7 linked regions of the Homo sapiens genome follow. The protein of the gene in region 1 purifies or fractionates together with the protein of each later gene. This does not show direct contact. Each region holds a gene or a part of one and is shown on either strand. Other genes may lie near its edges.

Region 1 (3,500 bases):
GACGGTAGAGCCAGACCCAGTCTCAAAAAAATAAAAATAAAAAAATTAATGTAATACAGCTACTATGAACCCACAAAAACTTTAAAAAAATTTTTTAATTATTAAAAAAATGTAATGCTGCTACTGTTTTGCTTATGTAGATTGTGGGCTAGAATAGGAAATAAAACTATCATTTTTAACACTTTTCTGGGGGGAAATATTATTCGAATTTCATAACAATTAGCTTGATGACCTTTTAGAATATATATGTAGACCATTGTGATGTTGGGGCTGCCTGTTGTAAATAGGATTTTTGTGAGCTTGATTGTACAAAATTGAAATTTGCAAACATCTTACTGAGTTTACTGTTTCCTTCTGGGTGTTAGGCCTACTGTAGAAATCAGAAAAATCGGAAATATTTTGTTGCTTGCTTTGTGAAACTCATGATGTGACATGGATTAAATTTCTAAAAAGTTTATTTAATTGCCTTTAAAATTAGTATGTCAAAAAGTTTATTTATTTATTTATTTATTTATTTTAATTTGAAACAGTCTCTCTCTGTCACCCAGACTGGAGTTTAGTGGCATGATCTCAGCTCACTGCAGCTACCACCCCCGGGTTTAAACGATTCTTATACCTCAGCCTCCTGAGTAGCTAGGATTACAGGGGCCCGCCACCACACCCAACTAATTTTTGTATTTTTAGTAGTGATGGGTTTTTGCCATGTTGGCCAGGCTGGTCTGGAACTCCTGGCCTCAAGCAATCCACCCGCCTCAGCCTCCCAAAGTGCTGGGATTACAGGCGTGGGCCACCACGCCCAGCCTCAAGTTAATAATTTATAATCCCAGCACTTTGGGAGGCCAAGACGGGCGGATTGCCTAAGCTCAGGAGTTCCAGACCAGCCTGGGCCATGACGAAACCCTATCTCTACAAAATTTTTTTTTTTAATTTATAATGAGAAAATAAATTTACATTTCCTTCTTAGGTCTCTAGAGGATCCATTTTTTTTCTGCAAAGCATCTGTCCACACCCTCTTACCATGCTTGTATGCCTTAAAGATCTAGCTTGGCCTGTCAGCAGTGTGCTTCATTGGGAATCGATGCAGCACCCTCCTGCCTGCAAGCTGACTAAAAGCCTTTTCCTTCTCCAAAGACTTTGGGACCATTTGTATTCACCAGGGAAAGGGTCAAACAACTCCTGCATCTTCTTCCCCTGCTTTTCTTGGCACATCTACTGATACTAGCTCCTAATTTGGGCAAGAAAAAAGTCAACAACTGGAGGTAGAGTGTGTTGACCCTGGACTCACCCTGAAAGGTAAGGGCACAAGAGATAGTTGTATTTAGCTGTATCTTGTTAGAAAAATACATTTGTGTAGCCAGGCGCGGTGGCTCACACCTGTAATCCCAGCACTTTGGGAGGCTGAGCCGGGTGGATCACGAGGTCAGGAGTTCAAGACCACCCTGGCTAACATGGTGAAATCCCGTCTCTACGAAAAATACAAAAAATTAGCCGGGCGTGGTGGTGGGTGCCTGTAGTCCCAGCTACTTGGGAGACTGAGGCAGGAGAATGGCGTGAACCCAGGAGGCAGAGCTTGCAGTGAGCAGAGATCACACTGCACTCCAGCCTGGGCGACAGAGTGAGACTCCGTCTCAAAAAAAAAAAAATAAATAACATTTGTGTGCATTCATGTGTACGTGTGTCTGTACACATGTACAAGAAACAACCGAGCATTTCTTTAAAAACCTTAGTCAGTTAGAACTGTCTCTGTTGCAGGTGACAGAAAACCCAGTCTAAACAGGCTTAAATATAAAAGGGCTGTTAGTTCATATAACTAAAAAAAGTCCAGGGCTAGAGTTACGGTCCATCTGCTTCTGCCTCCTTGGCCGTAGTTCCATGATTGGGCTCGGCACCATCAGACATAACTTCTTCCCACACACAGCTGTGCTCAAGCAGAAGCCCTCAGGTGGTCTCCTTGATCTGTGTGGGGCCTAGAGTTACTTCCACCACAGCAAAATCTCATTATTGTTGCTGCAGGAAAAGAATGGATACTGAGTGGCAGAAATACGAAACTGGATAAATTTTTGCCTTTATAAGACATTTGTTTCCAGTCCTTCTCAGACTGTATAAATTCTCCCAAGTCAGAGAGCAGAATTCTCAAACAAAAATGCAGGGACAGAACCAGGCACAGTGGCTCACAAGGCCTATAATCCCAGCACTTTGGGAGGCTGAGGCAGAAGGATCAGTTGAACCCAGGAGTTCAAGACCAGCCTAGCCATCATAGTGAGACACCATCTCTACAAAAAATTTAAAAATTAGCCAGGCATAGTGGCACACTCCTGTGGCTGAGATAGGAGGATCGCTTGACCCCAGGAGGTTGAGGCTGCAGCAAGCTGTGATAGTGCCACTGCACTCTAGCCTGGGTGAATACAGCAAGACCCTGTCTCCAAAAATAAAAATTTAAATAAAAATGTTTTAATTCAGGGACAAGCAGTTCTTGATTTTAAAGACGTATCTGCTTTATGTTGGGGCTATCAGAATTCCAGTTGCTAATTGATTAATCTGCTCTGTTAGGAGAACGTTTGTTGAATACCTGCCCTGCCAGGCTTTCTGCTTACACTGGTGGGGGGCACATTGACAAGATTTTGGGCTGTGTTTTCAGGGACCTCCAGCAGAGAAGGGTCACTAGGATACAATGTGGCATGCATGAGCTAAAAACAGAAGTGATTTAACTCTCAGAGGGAAAATGGATCAGATAACACTTCATAGAGATGACGACATCTGGTTCATTTTTGAAGAGTGAATAGAAAGATCCCAGCCCTCCATACCAAGAGAATAACTCCTGCAAACATTTTCTGACCTGGTGCCTGACCAATGGACCACACATCATCAGGAAGGCTAGAAAGTTGAGTTCCAGGAGGGAATGATAGAAGGCAAAGCCTAGAGAGATGGCAGGGGCCAGACTTCAGGGGCCTGGGGATGTGTACTTGCACTCCAAGTCGAGGAGACTGAACTTTTTACCAAAGACTTGGTGTTCTGTAGAAGTATGAGCAGATGAGTGACAAGATCTGGTTTATATGTTAAGAAGTTCTCAGCTGTAAGGTGAATAGATTGGAGGTGTTGGGGCAAAGGCAGGGGACCCAGTGAAGACAAGGAGCGAGGCTCTATACTGAGGCCCTGGTAGAAGTGGAGCAGATGGGCCACCTGAAGAGCTACTAGGAAGTTGACACCAATAAGATGTCGTTAGTCTGTGTATGGGGAGTGAGGGAAAGGAAGAACTTGCCAGTTTCCAGGTTTTAATCCTTCCAAAGGATTTCTGCAGAAAGACACTGGAAGAGCTGTATTCCTACTTATCCTTAAAGGAAAGAAACTGCCCTTGAATTCCAAGGACATGATTACTGAGCTGGAATTCCAAATAATGTGTCCCAGTGAGACTCCTGGGGGTAGTTTTGTCCGGTAACTGTGTGTGTTAGATGAAACTGCAGACTTCCAGCCACTCTATCTTACCATGTCTGTTAACAGTT
Region 2 (3,500 bases), on another chromosome or scaffold:
TGTGAATCCCTTTACCCATGTATATGTGTTTGTCTTCACCGCTGATTTGCAAATAAGAAGTCTCATATCAAGTGGGAAGGGTAGATTTTTATAATTTCACTGAAATTCAATACCAAATGGTAAAATCTGGAATGCCTTGACTGTGAGAGAAAATAACAAAATATTTTAAATAGGGTATACATTCCAATTATTAGTTTTTGAAATTTATTCTAAAGAAATTTCTGCTCATATAAGGATGGGCAGAGGATAACTGGGCTTGAATAACTGGGCCACACCTACATTTAGGTGTGGTGGAGAGGCAGAGCTCCAGAGCAATCTGTTCAAAATTCTGTGATGCTGGAAATGCTCTATATCTTCTTAGTCCAATATAGTAACTACTAGCCACATGTGGCTATTAAACACTTGAAAGGTAGCTAGTGCGACTGATGAAACAGATTTCAAATCTTATTTAATGCTAAGTAATTGAAATAGCCACGTGTGTCTAGTGCTATCTTAATAGACAGTGACACTCTAGAATTAAGCACAACAAATAGGGTCTTTTATTTAATATCGGAGGTTAATTTCAAGCACCTCTGCTAAATTCGGATGATATAGATAGGACAAGAAGGTGAGTATTCTTTGTGCAATTTCCCTTTTATCTACAGAAATACAGATCAATGAAATCCTTTGATTCTAGTGACTGCAAGTCCAAGATTTTCCAGAGAAGTGTTGGTCTCAAGTAGTCTGTAGTTTTGTTTGCTTAAGAATTTTAATGCTCATTCATTTTCTCATTTATTTTTTTTAAAAAACCTTATATTGAATATATTTGTGTTGGACACTGACATTGAAAAGATAGTAGTAGTGCAGAGTTCCTTGATTCAGGAAATCCTTGGAGTATCCTAAGGAGTAAATGGTGCAGAGCAGATATTACAGAGGAGGGGAGAGAAAATGCTGTGTGGAGAAGGAAGCACTGGGATAAACCTTAAAGAAATGGCCAGTGTTCAATAGGAAGCTGGGGAAAGGAGGATCTTGAGAAACAGAACAGTATGGGAAAACCAGGGAGAGATGAGAATCAGAAATGTCTGGAAATGTAATAATGGCAGCAGCACAGAAAATAGACTAGTGTGTAGACAGAAATGAGTCCAGAAGTTAATGTTACAATCCAGAACAAGTATGAGGGAGGTTATGAGCTAAGGGGATGAAAGTAGAATTTAAAAAGAGTAGATTTGAGAGGTGTTTTGTCTGTTGCTTCTCTTTACAATAAGTCAGGTAGAGAACAACTGATTTATCTTTTAAGCCCCCTTGAAAATTGTCGATTACTGCATACAATGCTGGAGCAGGATTTTTGTGGCCAAGGAAACTGAGCGTATCTTACAATATGCAAGTTTTTCAAACAGGACCAACTTACATAAATCATCCTCTTGGAAGTAGGCGCAACTACATCATGTATGTAGTTGAAATGTATGACACATGACAATTTTGTTTGGGGATGTAATGTAACTGAGGTGGAAACTTAATATTTATGAGACTTCCTCTTTCGTTAAAATCTTAACATTCTTTGATTTTGACAAATAGTGTTTTTATTTCTTCCAAAAATACAAGAATTTTAAAAGTATATAATTAGGCATCGTTTAGAAAGGTCAAAAAAGCAATCGTCTGTTGAATTTATGATTTGGGTACATTATTCTTCTCCAGTCTTTACCCCATTTTGATGGACTTTTTTCTCTTGGCAGTATATCCAGGTTCATTTATAGGTGGGAAGACAGTAGAAGCTGTTATTCCAGCATCAAAGCCCCCACTGTTTTCTAATAAGACGTTAGGTTTTATTTCTTCCAAAGCCTTATGATCACTGCAGTCAAAAAAAGAAGGGTGGAAAATGCAGAAAAATGGTGGAGGAGGTGGAGTATGGTCTTGGTCATAAAGAAATGAAAGGAGAAAGGTATTACTGAAGAGTATGGGCATTAGTCTGACTGTAAGGAGGACTTTGGCAGTAACTACAAGCCAGAGTGAGTGAGGAAAGAATAGCAGCCATTTGGGCAATGTGCTGACCATGTGTGGCTTGATACTAGGAAACCTGAACATACAGCAGGACAGAGAGGAGCACATCATGTGAGAGTTCCATGAGTTCTCGGATTTAAGAAAATAGAAGACTTTCTAAGTGCCAGATACTGTTCTAAGTACTTTTTGTTTAACCTATTTAAGGCAATTAACCCTTTTTTTTTGGAGAACAGTCATAGAACATGGAAATCACTGAAGAAATGTAAGTAGTGGTGGGATGCAGTGGCTCACGTCTGTAATCCCAGTACTTTGGGAGGCTAAGGTGGGTGGATCACCTGAGGTCAGGAGTTCAAGACCAGTCTGGCACCAACATGGCGAAACCCCGTCTCTACTAAAAATACAAAAACAAAACAAAAACTAGCCAGGCATGGTGGTGTGGGTCTACTGTAGTCCCAGCTACTCAGGAGGCTGAGGCAGGAGAATCACTTGAACCAGGGAGGTGAAGGTTGCAGTGACCCCAGATCGCACCACTGCATTCTAGCCTGGGTGACAGAGTGAGACTTCATCTCAAAAAATAAAAAAATAAAAAAATAAGTAGTTATTATCTCTCCATCAATCCTCACAACAACCCTATGAGCAGGGTACTTTTACCATCTTTATTTTACAGATGAAGAAATTAAGGCCCGAGAGGTTAAGTAATCCCCCAAACAGCATACAGTTAATCAGAGAGAGCTCTATTTAATCAGCTCAACTACTACGCCATCCTGCCTACTCTTAATCTATGTTAATTTTATAATATGTACAGAGATGATACTTGTAACGTGCTCACAAAGTGCCTGACATATAGTAAACCTGCAAAAATGTTAGCAATTATCATTATGTAATAAGATTTAGAAGACTTTCCGGTATTTATGTCATTCTACACCGACACTGCTCAGAAATAGTAACAAGATTTTTAGGGCAGCTCTGGATTTTTCTTATGTAAAGTGTAAAGAAAGCTTTGTTTAGGAGCATGCCCTTATAAATTGGAGAAACTCTTCTTCTACCCAAATACTGTCAATCAGTTTGACTGGCACAGTTGAAGTTTTTACCTCAAAGAATGGGCCTCATTGAAATGTTCTATATACTCATCTACATGGCTCTGACCTTCTGACAGAGAATGACTGCTGCTAATGGTACTAATAAGAGCAAATGGAATTCCCTTCCAAGCTTGGTATTTGAATAATATGTCAATTTGTTCATTGCCGTCTTACTAGGAATTAAATGCGCTAATATTTTTATAACCTAAGGGAGCTAGTGCGAGGTTGGCAGCCAGAAAAGGGAATCAGGCCAGAGGCTGGCCAAGGCATAGTCATGAGGGGGTGGAAGGGTCACAAAGTCAAAGTCAAGCAGGTGGACCCAGGCAGAACCCAACCAGACTCTAGAACAAAGTTAGGTTCAAAGTTTGGTTCTTATCTCCTTTCCCTATAATGTGGGCTGGTAGGGGTGGGTTGATTGTCATCCTCTGTACAAAAAGAATTGTA
Region 3 (3,357 bases), on another chromosome or scaffold:
CCGGGTTCAAGCAATTCTCCTGCCTCAGCCTCCCGAATAGCTGGGAATACAGGCACGTGCCACCATGCCCAGCTTATTTTTGTGTTTTTAGTAGAGACAGGGTTTCTTCATGTTGGCCAGGCTTGTCTCGAACTCCTGGTAACCATAAAAATGTTGACAAATTTAATATGGGTTAATGTTTAGAGCACTGAATGAAAAAACAGTTACATATTGGCTGGGCACAGTGGCTCATACCTGTAATGCCAACACTTTAGGAGGCCAAGGTGGGAGGATCCTTTGAGGCCAGGAGTTCAAGACCAGCCTGGCCAAAATAGAAAGACCCCATCTCTATTATTATTATTATTTTTAATAAAGTTACATATTGGCTGGGCATGGTGGTGGCTCACACTTGTAACTCCAACACTTTGGGAGACCAAGACAAGAGGATTGCTTGAGGGCAGGAGTTTAAGACCAGCCTAAACAACATAGTGAGACCCCATCTCTATTTTAAAAAATAAAAATAAGTGGCCAGGCACGGTGGCTGACACCTGTAATCCCAGCACTTTGGGAGGCCAAGGAGGGTGGATCACAAAGTCAGGAATTCGAGACCATCCTGGCCAATGTGGTGAAACCCCGTCTCTACTAAAAAATACAAAAAAAATTAGCTGGGCGTGGTGGCACATGCCTATAATCCCAGCTACTCAGGAGGCTGAGGCAGGAGAATTGCTTGAACCCAGGAGGCAGAGGTTGCAGTGAGCTGAGATTGCGCCACTGCACTCCAGCCTGGGTGACAGAGCTAGACTCCGTCTGAAACAAAAATTTTTTTTAAATAATAATAAATAAATAAAATAAGTTACATATTATTACAACTATATAAAATTAACTACATAGGAAAAAGACTAGAAGAAGACATCAAAAGTTAATGGTGTGGTGTCACTTGGAGTACTGTAATGAATTCTTATAATGAATTCTTTAATTCTTTTTTTTTTTTTTTTGAGATGGAATTTCGCTCTTGTTGCCCAGGCTGGAGTGCAATGGCACGATCTCAGCTTGCTGCAACCTCCACCTCCCGGGTTCAAGTGATTCTCTTGCCTCAGCCTCCCGCATAGCTGGGACTACAGGTGCCTACCACTGTGCCCAGCTAATTTTTGTATTTTTAGTAGAGACAGGGCCTTCACCACGTTGGCCAGGCTGGTCTCAAACTCCTGACCTCAGGTAATCCACCTGTCCTGGCTTCCCAAAGTGCTGGGATTACAGGTGTGATCCACCATGCCTGTCTGAATTCTTCAAATTCTGTAATGAATTTAAAATTTTCTCTATATAACCTTAGTTTTTCTGAGCTGCCTGGATATGTATAATACCTGTTCAAGGTCACAGTAAAAACACACACACCCAAATCCCACTCCAGAAGTCTTAAAGAATGTATCTCTTGGCTGAGCACGGTGGCTCACACCTGTAATACCAGCACTTTGGGAGGCTGAGATAGGTGGATCACAAAGTCAGGAGTTCAAGACCAGCCTGGCCAACATAGTGAAACCCCATCTCTACTAAAAATACAAAAATTAACTGGGCATGGTGGTGCGCACCTGTAGTCCCAGCTACTCGGGAGCCTGAGGCAGGAGAATCACTTGAACCCAGGAGGCGGAGGTTGCAGTGAGCCGAGATTGTGCCACTGCACTCCAGCCTGGGAGACAGAGCAAGAGTCCGTCTCAAAAAAAAAAAAAAAAAAAAAAAAAGAACGTATCTCTTTATAGCAGTTTTCCCAAAGGGGCAGCATGTTCATTTATATAGCCCAATGCGTAAGGAATGTCCTGAAATTCTCAGCTTCCCTGCCCACACCTCATGTTTCTGGGGCATGACCCTTCCCACTGCACTCAGCACCATGAGAAGTACAGTGTCACAGGAAGTGCTCCATGGCCACTCCCTGAAATTCAAGTTAATATAATATAGCCTGATTTTTCATTTACTCACATGAGCCTAACCTGCTTTTATAGTGACAAAAATATATATAGAGAGAGAATTTTTAGCTCAGGTGCGGTGACTCATGCTTGTGATCCCAGCACTTCGGGAGGCCAAGGCAGGCAGATCACCTGAGGTCAGGAGTTTTGAGACTGGCCTGGCCAACGTGGTGAAACCCTGTCTCTACTAAAAATAGAATGATATTAGCTGGATGTGGTGGCGCATGCCTGTAATTCCAGCTACTCAGGAGACTGAGGCAGGAGAATCGCTTGAACAGGGAGGTGGAGGTTGCAGTGAGCCGAGATGCAGTTGAGCCAAGATCACGCCATTGCACTCTAGCCTGGGCGACAAGAGTGAAACTCCAGCTCAAAAAGAAAAAAAAAAAAATTAAAACAGCAGAGGATATTTAAAAAACAGAGTGTGCCCTAGATTCTTTTTCTTCTCTGTCTATTTTAAGCATGATGCCAGGCTTGGCATTCATAGCTAGACTTTCATTGTTTCTGTTCTCTCCAGGAACTGGTTCAGACAGTAAGTTTGGGAGGCAACTATCTTCTGAACATTGGACCAACTAAAGATGGACTGATTGTTCCCATCTTCCAAGAAAGGCTTCTTGCTGTTGGGAAATGGCTGAGCATCAATGGGGAGGCTATCTATGCCTCCAAACCATGGCGGGTGCAATGGGAAAAGAACACAACATCTGTATGGTGAGTCTTGTCTTCTGTTGTGTGTAAGAACAGAACAGTGCCCCATCCGGAACTGGTATCTCCTTGGGTCCACAATGTCACAAGCCAGGCTGGAAGTTGCCTTGAGAAAATCCAGAAGGTTATTTTCCTATAAAATTTGTACCCCATTTGAGTTATGTCTCAGGCTACTTGGTTATCTTTGACTAGTGAAGGGAGAGAGTGGGTTTGGTGAAAAGGGAAGGAGCAACAAAGCATCAGTCAATTTATTGAGATTATTACCCTGCCCCCTAAAAATAGTAATAATGAATGCTTGGATTGTACGGAGCCCCATCCAAAATTCTTTCCATTCATACTTGGACTTCTGGATCTAGTTATTTGATCTTGGGCCCCATTTTTTCCACTGCAGAATGGAGTGATGATGCTTTATAGTGTTGTGAGGATTAAATGAGATGAGTGCCAGGCACAAACTCAGTGTTCAATTAAAGGGAACTGCTTTTATTATACCAGAGAGCTTAGGTCTCTGGATCTAATCCCTCTATTAATCCCTCTGTTTTGGATGAGTTTCTGTTTAGTGGTTGTCTTAGTCCATTTTCTGTTGCTATAACTGAATCCCACAGGCTGGATTTTTATTTTATTTTATTATTATTTTTTAGACAGTCTCACTCTGTCACCCAGGTTGGAGTACAGTGGCAGAATCTCAGCTCACTGCAACCTCTGCCTCCAAGGTTCAAGCAAT
Region 4 (3,500 bases), on another chromosome or scaffold:
AGAGGTTCTGTTGCCTGAGCCAGCAGGCACAGGCAGCCCCAGCCCCGTTCCTGACCACCACTTCTTTGCCCTGGTGGTAGTCGTGCCCGAGCACTCCGGCCACTTTCTGTCTTAGCCTGGAAGCATTGCTGGCACCCCTGCAGCACCTGCCAGGCATGTGAGAGGCATTCAGCGAACTCATGGCAAATTGAAAGTGCTAACACATGGAAGAATCCACACCAAATCTGTGTCCATCAGGTGGCAGCTTGCCAAAACCTGGCCATCGCCGTGGCTCACCGTCTTCACCCTTCAGCTGTGGTCCGAGTGAGTCTCCTGAGAATTCTCACTGAGGCACTGAGGCCTCAAGTGATTCTCCTGTCTTGGCCTCCCAAAGTGTTGGGATTACGGGTGTGAGCCAGAGTTGGTTGTATTAAATTCTGACCAATGCAAGGCTTCAGGAACAATTCCAGAGCCACGCAGAGTCCAATAAATGCCCGCAGGGTAAGTCTGTGAGTGCAGCACATGAGCAGCTGACAGTGTTCTCCTGGTGTGGGTGGCAGCGGGTGCCTTCACTGACACTTCTCATGCAGGGCAGGACATGGGTGTTGTGGTGTGTCAGAGGCTCCCTGGCAGGTACTGACACCCTCTTTTCTGCTTTTCCCAGGGCGGTGTCCGTGTCCTCCATGTCTGAGTTCCAGCGTCTAATGGACATCTCCCCCTTCCTGCCTGAGAAGGGCCTGCCGTCCACCAGCAGCAAGGAGGATGTCACCCCACCCCTGTCTCCAGACGACCTCAAGTACATCGAGGAGTTCAACAAGAGCTGGGACTACACACCCAACAGGGGCCACAATGGTGGGGGGCCGGACCTTTGGGCCGACAGGACCGAGGTGGGGCGGGCAGGGCACGAGGACAGCACAGAGCCTTTCCCCGACTCCTCCTGGTACCTAACCACAAGTGTCACCATGACCACGGACACCATGACCAGCCCAGAGCACTGCCAGAAGCAGCCACTGCGGAGCCACGTCCTCACCGAGCAGTCGGGGTTGCGCGTGTTACACAGCCCGCCTGCCGTGCGCAGGGTCGACAGCATCACGGCGGCAGGTGGTGAGGGTCCCTTTCCCACAAGCAGAGCCAGAGGGAGCCCGGGAGACACCAAGGGAGGCCCTCCAGAACCCATGCTCAGCAGGTGGCCTTGCACCTCCCCCAGGCACTCCCGGGACTATGTGGAGGGGGCACGGCGCCCCCTTGATAGTCCCCTCTGTACCTCCCTGGGGTTTGCCTCCCCACTGCACAGCCTGGAGATGTCCAAGAACTTGAGTGATGACATGAAGGAGGTGGCCTTCTCTGTCAGGAATGCCATCTGCTCCGGCCCTGGCGAGCTGCAAGTCAAGGACATGGCCTGCCAGACCAATGGGTCCCGGACGATGGGGACCCAGACTGTTCAGACCATCAGTGTGGGCTTGCAGACTGAAGCCCTGCGTGGCAGCGGTGTCACCAGCAGCCCCCACAAGTGTCTCACTCCAAAGGCTGGGGGCGGTGCTACACCCGTGTCGTCTCCTTCCCGGAGCCTTAGGAGCAGACAGGTGGCCCCTGCCATCGAGAAGGTGCAGGCCAAGTTTGAACGCACATGCTGCTCCCCCAAGTATGGTTCTCCCAAGCTGCAGAGGAAGCCCCTCCCCAAAGCCGACCAGCCAAATAACAGGACGTCACCAGGGATGGCCCAGAAAGGGTACAGTGAGTCAGCCTGGGCCCGCTCCACCACCACAAGGGAGAGCCCCGTGCACACCACCATTAATGATGGCCTCTCCAGCCTCTTCAACATCATTGACCACAGCCCCGTGGTGCAGGACCCCTTCCAGAAGGGGCTGCGGGCCGGCAGTCGGTCTCGCTCAGCAGAGCCCCGACCAGAGCTGGGCCCAGGCCAGGAAACAGGCACCAATTCCCGAGGAAGGTCGCCTAGCCCCATTGGGGTGGGGTCAGAGATGTGCAGGGAGGAAGGGGGAGAGGGCACGCCAGTGAAGCAGGACTTATCTGCTCCCCCTGGCTACACGCTCACTGAGAACGTGGCCCGGATCCTCAACAAGAAGCTGCTGGAACATGCCTTAAAGGAGGAGAGGAGGCAGGCTGCCCACGGGCCCCCGGGTCTCCACAGTGACAGCCACTCGCTGGGGGACACAGCCGAGCCAGGGCCCATGGAGGTAATGAATGCTGAGTGCCCCACACCCTTCCCCACCAGCTCTTCCCTTTAGCTGTGGGGCAGGTTGGGACTTGGGATTGTGCTCTGTCATTTGATCTCAGGAATCGTCCATGATTGGTTATTGGGAGCTGGGGAGGTGTTAGGTTTATGGGAGAATAGAATAGGCAGAAAAAGCCCTGAGCAACTTTTTTGAAGAAAATGTTATTTTATTGTCCTTGGGAAATCATATAGTACATGGTTTGATTTGGGTTCTGTCACCAGTCTTAAGTGATTGATCCTTATTTATCAGGGCATTTTATTTGGGGTCAGTTTGCCTTCTTTCTGTGTGAATTCGTGCACATGTACAAACTATGGGATAGTTGTGTCAGGCTTGCTGCATACTGCAGACCTTCATATGTGACAGCATGAGGTGAGCTGGAGAGGGTCTGGACCACATGAGCACGAGCACTTCTCATCAGGAGCCACAAGATCTCGATTCCTGGGCTGGCTTCCTTACAAAACAGCCATCTGGCAGCTCACAAATCACTTACCCTCTTTGTGGCCATGAGCCCCCCTAGCAGTAAAACCAAGTGAAACATATAGACAAAATCAAAATCCTACCCTAATACAATATGATTATCATTATTGCCCTTGATATTACTCACAAATCAATCCACTGTGAATTGGGTTCTGATGCACATCCACATGTGGTGTTTTTGTACACCACTTTACAAAACGCTTCCCATTTCCACTTCAACAATGAGCAAAATGAAAGCCTGATGTTGATGCTGGTGGTGATGGCTATGGTGATGCCACTTTGTGGTTCGTGCAGCACAGAGAGGACGTGTCTGTCCAGCGAGTGATTCCAACTCGCCAGGAGTCCGGATGAACAGGCTTCACACTGGGAACACCTGGCCCCATGAGCACTCTCCGAGCCAGGCTGCTCCCGCAGATGGCGGGGGTCAGAGGAGGAGGAGGACGGCAGCTTGCTCCTGGTCTGCCCGCTGCTTCCTCGCCAGGACCCAAGCAGCCCTGGCTTCATGGGCAGGGAGAGGAGGAAGGTGTATTGCCTGTTTCACCTGGCCCACGTTTCCCACAAGAGGGTAAATGATGGCTGTCTTCCCAGCCTGGCCCACCAATGAATGTTTAACTCAGAATGCAGGCTTGAAATCTGAATAGGTCAGACCTGTGGAACTGCCAATGGCTTACAGAAGTGGCAATTCCATATGGTTCACACCTAATACAAATATTGATACTACATGGCCTACATGTTCCAAGATCTGAGTCTTTGTGATAAAGTTGTTTGCATGCTCTGAGGACAAACTGCTGGTTGAATGTTCTCAGG
Region 5 (3,500 bases), on another chromosome or scaffold:
TCAAATGCATATTTTTCTCATAAGGAAGAACAGTAGGGAGCTAAAGGACTTTAACTATTTGAGATGCTACATACAAGTTCCTATAAGTTTCTGTCATTTTTTTAACATGCATTTTAACCTTACAGGTAGCAATTTCAGGTGTTAGAGCAAGCTAATTTTTATACTTTGAACTATAAAAATACTGATTTTAAGGTTATGGGCAGAGATTTAGGCAATACTACTGAGCACTGTTACATTTGAAGGATAGCAAATTAGATTTTCAGAAATTATGTGTTATGTATTCTTGTCTAAGATGAAGATGGCTTTTAATTTTGTTTATGTATTTACATGGAGTGGTTCATCTTGCATTTTTGTGATTTTTTTTTTTGGTAGCAATACCTTTTATGCTATTTCAGTGTTGATATAACTTTAATGAAAAAATGTGACTGTAAAAAGCAACTTATTGTGAGTTACACAGCATTAAGTGGGAAAACAAAAGCTACCTACAGTCCTAGATTGGTACAGAATATCTTGATAAAAATTTATTTTTCTCATACATAGGACACTATGTTAAAAACATTCTAAACTTAAAACTACTGTTATGTCTGCTAGTGACTTGTCGTTAGGTGCTTTGGTTGGTTTTTCTCCAGTGGAGTGTTTTTTATAATGTTTTTTTTTCTTTATATTTTAGCCAAGAGTCGAAGCTAAACCAGAAGTTCAATCTCAGCCACCTCGTGTGCGTGAACAACGACCTAGAGAACGACCTGGTTTTCCTCCTAGAGGACCAAGACCAGGTGAGTCAGCTCCTTTATAGCCTTTAGCATTTAACATTTGTAAGGCTGTAAAAGACTGAACTTAAACAAAAAACTATGATGCGTTCTATACACAGACCCATATAGTCTCAAATTGCTTAAAGATGTGATGTGAGCAACCTGCTAAATAGTGTCTGGGGCCAAATAACCAATTTTTAGGGAGGATTGGTTGACATGCCATGGTGACATATTTTGAAGGTGTAAAAGACTTAAGTCTTATTTGGTTATTGTCACGGTTTTTTGTTTTTTTTTTTTGTTTGTTTGTTTTTTTTTTGAGACGGAGTCTTGCTCTGTCGCCAGGCTGGAGTACAATGGCGTGATCTCAGCTCACTGCAACCTCTGTCTCCCGGGTTCAAATGATTCCCTTGCCTCAGCCTCCCAAGTAGCTGGGATTACAGGCACACGCCACCAGGCCCAGCTAATTTTCTGTATTTTAGTAGAGACAGGGTTTCACCATGTTGGCCAAGATGGTCTCGATCTGCTGACCTCATGATCTGCCCTACTCGTCCTCCCAAAGTGCTGGGATTACAGGCATGAGCCACTGTGCCCGGCCTAGTCACTGGTTTTAAGAGTTCAAAACCAAGCTGCCAATAACCTACTCTCTTAGCAGTCTTATCTCTTTACAGATAAACAATAAGCCCATTTTGATTCTTAGGTATTAAGTAAGTTGCCATGATTTTTGACTTGTTTACCTTGTTAGCTACACATGTAATACTTTTATTTGAACTCTGTAAGAATGTTTAGATTGCTTTGGGGAGGAGATGGGAGAGATGGAGATAGTATATATCACATTTACAATGTGAATTTTTAAAGTGATATGTTACCAAACTAGAAGTCCTAAATTTGTCAGTGATTAAACTTGGGATCTTGAGTGAAACCCTTAAATTCTGAGCTTCTTTTATGTCAAATATTACACAAATTATTCTTGTATTGCCTATTTTCCTCACTGTGTTCCTTGTGTTATTGGGAGAATCAAATAAGATTTTATGTATATCTATATACATACACACTTAATATGTATAGACTGCATAAATGTGATGATTGCTGTTAAAATTTACTGATTGCTGTAATGTCATAAAGCCAAAGAATTTTGAATTTCAAAAAACTAAGCAAATATTTAGTAAGCTATACCTCACTATCTGAAATCTGCTTGGTTCCTGGGTGATGGCAACAGTTTGGTTAAGGAGGAATACCTGTAGTACTAATATTTGATTTTTGTATAATCCAGTAGATCTAGAAGAAGCTATTTTAGCAACCTAGTCATTGTCCTCACTTTACATTTTAGTGTCATGCTGTTTTCTAACCTACTAGTAATAAGTACTTTTGCCTCTTTTTCAAGAAGCTCACCTAGTCTTATTAAACTAAAACAGGAATATCAATATTAAGTGATTTTTACATTCACTCCTTTGAAGTAGTTTTTATGATATTGTAAACTTTAGTATCTGCTCTATTTCTATTCTCAGGCAGAGGAGATATGGAACAGAATGACTCTGACAACCGTAGAATAATTCGCTATCCAGATAGTCATCAACTTTTTGTTGGTAACTTGCCACATGATATTGATGAAAATGAGCTAAAGGAATTCTTCATGAGTAAGTGATTTATTTTGCTGTTGGAGTTTTTAAATTATTTTAAATTAAGCAAGAGGCATATGGAGCTTTTTTAATAACTATTTTTTTTAAATGTTTCTCTCTTTATACTGTGTCCAGCTACCAGACCCACCTTAATTGTGCAGAAGGGAGTAGATGACTTATCTCACATGTTTCTCAGTGACTGCTTAGTGTTGATTTGGCCTGGCTCAGTAGTGTTTAGAAGAAACAGCTGGATAAATCAGTCATAAATTCAGAGATAAAGGATTCATTTGGCAAATGGGTCAATATATTAGGAGAAAATACATTGTCTTTCCAAAATTATGCAGTTAACTTTACTTATGAAAGGACTACCAAAGATGCAGAAAGGTAACACAGCAGGCGGGCAGGCTACTTGGTATCTTAGGGGATTGCCTGCTTGAGTAAACGTACCTTGGCTATCACTGTGTGTAGAAGCTTGCGAGTTTTATTTTAAAATGGATCGGGGAGATAACGATATTCATCCTGAACAATTAGAGCCATCAAGGTATTCTGTTAAAAATATTTAACCCTTGATGTAATGTATATTTTCACAGGTTTTGGAAACGTTGTGGAACTTCGCATCAATACCAAGGGTGTTGGGGGAAAGCTTCCAAATTTTGGTTTTGTGGTTTTTGATGACTCTGAACCAGTTCAGAGAATCTTAATTGCAAAAGTAAGTGATTTAAAGGGCATAATTCAAGACTTTATTATTTCTGTTGTATATATTAATTTGGGGTATTTAAAAACCATAGAAAATCTTTTAATAATAAAGCTAAAAATAGTTATTAAATGGTATTTATGCAAAGAATAAAGATTTGTTAGTTTGCAGATCATTTTAAATTTTGTTACTTGCTTTGCTGAAGAAGGTGGGAAAGATTGCAAGATTGCATGTTAAGAATTTTGGCTGGGTATAGTGGCTCACACTTGTAATCCCAGCACTTTGGGAAGTTAAGGCAGAAGGATTGCTTGAGCCCAGGAGAGTTCAAGACCAGCCTGGGCAACAGTGAGACATTGTCTCTACAAAAAAAGAAAAATAGCCGGCCATGGTGGTAGACACCTATAATCCCAGCTACTCAGGAGGCTGAGGTGGGAGTATCAC
Region 6 (3,500 bases), on another chromosome or scaffold:
AAGGAGTATGGGATTTCTTGTGCCGGTTCCTTCACATCCTCACTACACTTATCTGCCTTTACAGTGGCTCGATCATAGTTCACTGCATAGCCTTCTGGGCTCAAGGGGTCTTCCAGCCTCAGCCTAATATAGGCACATGCCACCATGACTGGCTAATTTTTTTTTTTTAAGTTTTTTTTTGTAGAGATAGGGCCTTGCAGTGTTGCCCAGGCTGAGGAATTTTATTTATGTTTATTTTATTTATTTATTTATTTATTTATTTATTTATTTATTTATTTATTTATTGAGATGGAGTCTTACACTGTCACCCAGGCTGGAGTGCAGTTGCGCGGTCTCAGCTACTGCAAGCTCCGCCTCCCGGGTTCATGCCATTCTCCTGCCTCAGCCTCCCGCGTAGCTGGACTACAGGCGCCCGCCACCACGCCTGGCTAATTTTTTGTGTGTGTTTTTAGTAGAGGCGGGGTTTCACCATGTTAGCCAGGATGGTCTCGATTCCTGACCTCGTGATCCACCCACATCGGCCTCCCAAAGTGCTGGGATTACAGGTGTGAGCCACCATGCCTGGTCTAGAAATTATTTTATATTTTATACCATTGCCTTATAAGTTCTCAAGCAACTGGAAAATACAATCAGAACGTATTCCTCAAGATTTCAAGGATATTTTACACAAAGTTCTATTGTCTGATTCCTTAGCAGTTGTTACTACTGTTTCCCTAACCTCTAATCTTCTATTGGGTTATTAGTCTTAGAATTGAATTTTGAGAGGTAAGGGCTTGAATTTGAACATAGAAATTTATACAGGTCTGATCAGTAGTTCTTGACATTGTATTATCTGGAAACAAATCTTTAGAACTGAGCTTAAGATGTTTAATGACATTTTGTAGACAGAGTATGATTTCAGTGTAGTTGTTTTTGTTTCTTTCTAGATCTAGTTCAGAGATGAAGTATATCAACTTTTTTTTCCTTTTTGACCCAATGCTAGCAGAAAAACAACACCTTTTAATCATATTTAGTATTTGAAAATGTGTATACAGGTTCCTTTTTATTTTATTTATTTCTTACAGGTTCCTTTTTAATCAGCTTTATTGAGATAGAGTTCATATACTGTATGGTTCATACCACATATGGTTCATATACCATACAGTATATGAACTCACTTTAAGAGTATAATTCAGTGGGTTTAAGGGTATAATTCATTCATTTTAAGGGTATAATTCAGTGGCTTTTAGTATATTTTCTTTTTTTTCTTCTTTTTTTCTTTTTTCGAGACAGGGTCTTGCTCTGTTACCCAGGCTGGAGTGCAGTGACGCAGCCTCAGCTCACTGCAACCTCCACCTCCCAGGTTCAAGCGAATTCTCTTGCCTCAGCATCCTGAGTAGCTGGAACTACAGGCTCACGCCACCACACCCAGCTAATTTTTATATTTTCAGTAGAAACAGGGTTTCACCATGTTGCCCAGGCTGGTCTCGAACTCCTGGCCTCAAGTGATCTGCCTGCCTCAGCCTCCCAAAGTGCTGGGATTACAGGCATGAGCCACCGTGCCTGCCTGTTTTGTAGTGTATTCAAACAGAGTTGTACAACTGTCACCACAATCAGTTTTAGAACCCCAAAAAGAAACCCTGTACTCTTTACCAGTCACTCCCTATCTTCCGTCCACTAACCCCTGGCATCCACTAATTTACATGACCTCTATGAATTTGCCTATTCTGAACATTTTATAAATGGAATTCTAAATACACTACCTTTTATATCTGGATGCTTTTACTAAGCATGTGTATTTTTGAAATTGACTTTAAAGCTTGTTGGCCCCTGGAAGAGTAAATTACTCTCCACCCCAAGTATTCCCTCTACCCCTCAGCTTTGCCTGTAAGTTTCTTTTTAAAAAAATCACACATACATTGTTGTAGTAGATTTAAGAATAAGTATTTTGCTGACCCAAGGTTCTTTTGCTTCTTTCTAGATCAGTGCCTTGCAGGTTTTATTTTACAGAGCTTAATAGAATCAGAAATCTCTTTAAAACTCCAGTCTCATATCCAGTTATCACTCACCATCTCTGTGTTTGCAGCAATAGCCAGGCCTGGCCCAGAGGGACTTGATCTCCACTTTTGGTTTTTAGACTTTTCTGTGGCTTTTACCACCTGCTGTGTATCCTTGACCTCATACTGCTGGACTCCTTTGGATGGATACCAGCAGGATGGTTCAGGCTCCAGTGGGCACTTTTTAAAATTCTCTCCTTCTGTTCAGATAGACAGAGCTCAGGCAGATCACCAAGTCTGTTGCCTGTGTAACCAGGAAAGAGATGCTAGTTTTCTTTTAGGCACTCCCATTTGTTTCTGTTGGAACCTTCCTCACTTAGTTGATGGAAGGGAAGCAAAAGACCCAGAACTCCATCTCAAATTAATGACTTAACAATTCTTGAATTTTCTCTTATCTCCTAGTTAACTCTTTTTCTTATCTCCAGGAGGTCAGTTTTAATTATTGTTGTTTATTCATTTATTTTCATGGAGACAGGGTCTTACTGTGTTGTCCAGGCTGGCCTTGAACCCCTGGCCTCAAGGAATCTTTTCACCTCAGCCTCCCAAAGTGCTGGAATTACAGGCATGAGTCACCACACCCAGCCTGATATTTTTCAGTTGATGTATCATAGTTGTGCCTAAGCATAATTTTTTAATTTTAATTTTTTATTTTTGGGGACAGGGTCTCCCTCTGTCGCCCAGGCTGGAGTGCAGTGATGCGATCTCAGCTCACTGCAACCTCCACCTTCTGGGTTAAAGCGATTCTCCTGCCTCAGCCTCCCGAGTAGCTGGGACTACAGGTACCCACCATCACACCCGGCTAAATTTTTTGTGTGTATTTTAGTAGAGACGAGATTTCGCTGTGTTGCCCAGGGCGGTCTCGAACTCCTGAGCTCAGGCAATCCGCCTGCCTCGGCCTCCCAAAGTGCTGGGATTACAGGCATGAACCACCACGCCCGGCCAAGCGTAATATTTTTAAGGGTCATCAATGTTGTGTCATGAATCAATCAGTGTTTCGTTCTTTTTTATGGTTGAATAATATTCCATGGTATGGATTTGTCACATTTTGTTTATCCATTCATTAGTTGATAGACATTTTGGATTTCCACTTTTTTTTTTTTTTTTTGCTATTATAAATAGTGATACTATGTACAAATTTTTGTGTGGAAATATGTCCTCATATCTCTTGGTTATATACCAAAGAGTGGAAGTGCTGGGTCATATGGTAACTACGTGTTTAACATTTTGAGAAACTGCTAAACTGTTTTCCAAAGTTGCTGTACCGTCGTACATTCCTGCCAGCAATATATGAGGATGCCAGTTCCTTCACATGTTCACTACACTTATCCACCTTTTTTATAATAACTAATGGTGGGTGTGAGATGGTATCTCATTGTAGTTTTGATTTGTATTTCTCTGATGGCTAAATGGCTAATGATGTTTGAACTTTTTGTTTGAGACAGAATCTCACTCTGTCCAGATTCA
Region 7 (3,500 bases), on another chromosome or scaffold:
AGAAGAGAAGGGATCACAGTAATGCTTTTGGGGTGGGAGGAAGCCCACCTTCACGTTCAGTAAAAGGGATACGTGAGGCCGGGCATAGTGGCTCAAGCCTGTTATCCCAGCACTTTGGGAGGCCAAGGCGGGTGGATCACGAGGTCTGGAGATCGAGACCATCCTGGCTAGCACGGTGAAACCCCGTCTCTACTAAAAATACAAAAAATTAGCCGGGCGTGGTGGCGGGCGCCTGTAGTCCCAGTTACTGGGGAGGCTAAGGCAGGAGAATGGCGTGAACCCAGGAGGCAGAGTTTGCAGTGAGCTGAGATTGTGCCACTGCACTCCAGCCTGGGCGACAGAGTGAGACTGCATCTTAAAAAAAAAAAAAAAAAAAAAGGGATACATGAATGGAAGAAAGAAAATTAGCTTCAGCATCTGAACACTCAAAACAGTTTGTAAACATCAGTGTTTAATTAAATTATTTTGAGGATTATCTTCAACTATCAGGAAAAATGAAATGATTCTGAAATATGTTGTGGATTCTGAGTTGAACTGAAAGCTCCATGTGGGGGTGTAAAGGCTCTGCTTATCCAGCCACGTGTCCAGGTTAAGGCCTTAACATAGGACTGAAACAGAAGACTGTTAACTTTTTGCCATTCCCAAACATAGAAACAGATGTCCATCCACAGCTCTTCAGCCATTCTGGATGGCTAATTAGATGGGGGTATGGACTGCATTGCCATCAACTCAGATAAAATTCATTGCTCTTTTAATAAGGCAATACATAAATTGTATGTGTATGTCTGTTTTTGTTTTAGGATGTGTGTAGTAATCAGTTCAGTGATGCTACTGTGTGATTGAATGAACTGAGTAGATCGTTAAGGGTTCTTTTCTAACCACTATATTATTCAAGAATTCATTTAGAATGTCTTTAATTTCCTCCAGTTGGTAGCCCAATAGTGTACTGCCTTAAATGTTCAAAAAGCATGCCTCTGCCATTTGCAGTAACTGGAAACCTTAGGAATTTCTGCCAAAGTCCTTCAAAGCATAAAGCTGAAGTATGTATTGAAATGCTTGAGTCAGCTGCTCAAGGGTTATACTGACTGCACTCCTGCTGATTTTTCTAGGGTAAAAAAATCTCCTTGGTGACCTGAGGCAGCTACCCAGAAGCACGTGTATTATAACTATGCACAAAAAGCACAGAGATATACTACATCTAAATTCTAGCATTGGAATTGTTATATTTTTTATTATTATACTTAATTTCAGTAAATCTTTTTTAATAACGTATAAGAAAATAACTTTAACTCTTCTACTGATTACCATTAAAATTTTTTAACTCTTCTCTAACTTTCTAATTTAGGGAAGGAAAAAGAAAGGTACCTACTGTATTTATTGAATGTTTAGTATGTGCCTGAAATTTTTATTTGCTTAGTGTTACTCCCATTTTGTAGATGAGGACCTCAGAACAGTTAAGTGCGGTCACATAGCTTTGAATAGCAAGCACAGTTAGGATTTGAACAAGGTCTTCTTGATTCCAAAGGCATCTCTATGACCACATCATGCTGTAGAATGAGCTATCAACTATTAGGCCTATAAAAGACTATCAACCTTATTAAATAAAAAAACTAAGGTGCAGCACGGTAAGCATAATGTACCACCATATGTATGATCAGATATACACGCATGTGTATGTGTTTATTTTCATACATGCTTAGCATACCAGGCATCTCTTTGAATGGTTGCCTCTAGGAATGGAGACAGGGTAGCTAGAAATCTGGACTTTTATTATAAAACCTTTTATACCTCTTGAGTTTTGTTTTATGTGCATGTATTACCTATTCACAGGAGAAACTGTGTGTACCACTGTGCCCAGCCAGTTTGTCTAGTTTTTGAAACAAGAACACCATGCCTCGAGTGACAGTAATTGTAGTCATGACTGAAGTAAAACAAGTATTTTATGAGTTTTAAATTTGAACTTAAAAAAGCTTCCTATCTACTAAAAGCTTGATTTTCATTTGGGGCCACATTAATGGAAATAGAGTATTTTGAACAAGCAAGGGGGATCAGTTGAGTTGGCTTTGTGCTTATTAGATCATACCTTATCTTGAATATACTTTATTTTTGCACTTGATTTTAAGAACTGTAATGGCCTGTTTACATAGCTGTCTCCCCTGCAAGGCTGGGCATTCCTTGAGGGATAGAATCCATGGCTCATTTGCCCTTGTGTCTTTACTGGCTAGCCTAATTCCCAACACTTGGTAGGTAGCTAATAAAAGTTGATTGAGTTGAATGGAAATAGAAATACTTAGCTTAGTATGGGGAGGAGAGAGAAGAGAAAAATCTGTCTTCAGATAATTACAGAGTTCTCATGTAGAAGAGAGATTAAGTTTGTTCTATATGGCTTGAGAAGACAGGGAACCAGTGGGTAGAAGTATGGAGAAGTTTCTAAAGGTTGAATCATCTAAAGCCTAGATGGGTCTGTCTTAGAATCTATCTCCAGGGGATTCATGGCTCTTTAACTTACTTTTTTCCCCCATTTTTTGTTTGTTTGTTTGTTTGTTTGTTTTTGAGGCAGAGTCTTGCTCTGTCGCCCAGGCTGGAGTGCAGTGGCACAATCTCACTGCAGCCACCGCCTCCCGGGTTCAAGCAATTCTCCTGCCTCAGCTTCCTGAGTAGTTGGGACTACAGGCGCATGCCACCACGCTCACCTAATTTTTTGTATTTTTGGTAGAGATGGGGTTTCACTACGTTGACCAGGCTGGCCTTGAACTCCTGACCTCAAGTGATCCACCCGCCTCGGCCTCCCAAAGTGCTGGGATTACAGGAGTGAGCCACCGCGCCCAGCTCTTTCCTCCACTTTGTTATAGATATAGCATGTATGTGAATACTTTAGTTATCATTTATTATAGGAAGCAAAATTACTAACCTTCTTCTTTGATTTTTTTGTTCATAGTCAAGTTCATCCGAGAAGTAACACCATATATCAAGAAGCCATCATTAGTATCAGATCTGCCGTGGGAAGGTGCAGCCCCCCAGTCACCAAGCTTTAGTGGCAGTGAGGACTCTGGTTCGCCAAAACACCAGAACAGCACCAAGGACAGGAAGATCATCCCTCTCAAAATGTGCTTTGCTGCTAGAAACCTAAGCATGCCGGATCTGGAAAACAGGTGAGGTGTACCTAACAAGAACATCATACCTACAGCTTTACAAACTTAAGGACATGTTGCAGTATTATATGACTCTGTTAACTCAGTTATACAGAGGAAAACATCTGTCTGAGGTGAGAGATGCATTTTTGGGGTTCCACATTTTAAGTTATTCTACATATATACATGTATATGTGTAGAAAAAATTTTGAACAGACACACAAGAAACTGTTAATGGCTTTACCTCTAGGGTGTCAAATAAGACTAAAGGGGTGAAAGAAAGAGGGGGCATCTTTTCTTCCTTTTATGTCTTTCTGTAATGTTGTTATTACTTTTTTCACTATGAATATGTATTACTTTATAATTGAA

The links.
Region 2: the proteins of MARK3 (region 1) and DTNA purify together in Homo sapiens (affinity purification with mass spectrometry, with the first as the bait; one large-scale study listed by BioGRID). This does not show direct contact.
Region 3: the proteins of MARK3 (region 1) and FUCA1 purify together in Homo sapiens (affinity purification with mass spectrometry, with the first as the bait; one large-scale study listed by BioGRID). This does not show direct contact.
Region 4: the proteins of MARK3 (region 1) and MTCL1 purify together in Homo sapiens (affinity purification with mass spectrometry; 2 studies listed by BioGRID and IntAct, with this or other methods). This does not show direct contact.
Region 5: the proteins of MARK3 (region 1) and G3BP2 purify together in Homo sapiens (affinity purification with mass spectrometry; one large-scale study listed by BioGRID and IntAct). This does not show direct contact.
Region 6: the proteins of MARK3 (region 1) and PPM1G purify together in Homo sapiens (affinity purification with mass spectrometry, with the first as the bait; one large-scale study listed by BioGRID). This does not show direct contact.
Region 7: the proteins of MARK3 (region 1) and SNTB2 purify together in Homo sapiens (affinity purification with mass spectrometry, with the first as the bait; one large-scale study listed by BioGRID). This does not show direct contact.

The regions. Positions count from the first base shown.
Region 1 is NC_000014.9:103,486,415-103,489,914, forward strand, and holds part of MARK3 (MAP/microtubule affinity-regulating kinase 3), read left to right. Parts: intron 1-3,500. UniProt on the Homo sapiens protein: Serine/threonine-protein kinase. Involved in the specific phosphorylation of microtubule-associated proteins for MAP2 and MAP4. Phosphorylates the microtubule-associated protein MAPT/TAU. Phosphorylates CDC25C on 'Ser-216'.
Region 2 is NC_000018.10:34,716,798-34,720,297, forward strand, and holds part of DTNA (dystrobrevin alpha), read left to right. Parts: intron 1-3,500. UniProt on the Homo sapiens protein: May be involved in the formation and stability of synapses as well as being involved in the clustering of nicotinic acetylcholine receptors.
Region 3 is NC_000001.11:23,847,934-23,851,290, reverse strand, and holds part of FUCA1 (tissue alpha-L-fucosidase precursor), read left to right. Parts: intron 1-2,451; coding exon 2,452-2,642; intron 2,643-3,357. UniProt on the Homo sapiens protein: Alpha-L-fucosidase is responsible for hydrolyzing the alpha-1,6-linked fucose joined to the reducing-end N-acetylglucosamine of the carbohydrate moieties of glycoproteins.
Region 4 is NC_000018.10:8,824,056-8,827,555, forward strand, and holds part of MTCL1 (microtubule cross-linking factor 1), read left to right. Parts: intron 1-115; coding exon of another isoform or gene 116-161; exon of another isoform or gene 162-303; intron 304-643; coding exon 644-2,177; intron 2,178-3,499; coding exon of another isoform or gene 3,500-3,500. UniProt on the Homo sapiens protein: Microtubule-associated factor involved in the late phase of epithelial polarization and microtubule dynamics regulation.
Region 5 is NC_000004.12:75,645,912-75,649,411, reverse strand, and holds part of G3BP2 (ras GTPase-activating protein-binding protein 2), read left to right. Parts: intron 1-670; coding exon 671-773; intron 774-2,254; coding exon 2,255-2,383; intron 2,384-2,955; coding exon 2,956-3,074; intron 3,075-3,500.
Region 6 is NC_000002.12:27,399,592-27,403,091, reverse strand, and holds part of PPM1G (protein phosphatase 1G), read left to right. Parts: intron 1-3,500.
Region 7 is NC_000016.10:69,242,664-69,246,163, forward strand, and holds part of SNTB2 (beta-2-syntrophin), read left to right. Parts: intron 1-2,938; coding exon 2,939-3,152; intron 3,153-3,500. UniProt on the Homo sapiens protein: Adapter protein that binds to and probably organizes the subcellular localization of a variety of membrane proteins. May link various receptors to the actin cytoskeleton and the dystrophin glycoprotein complex.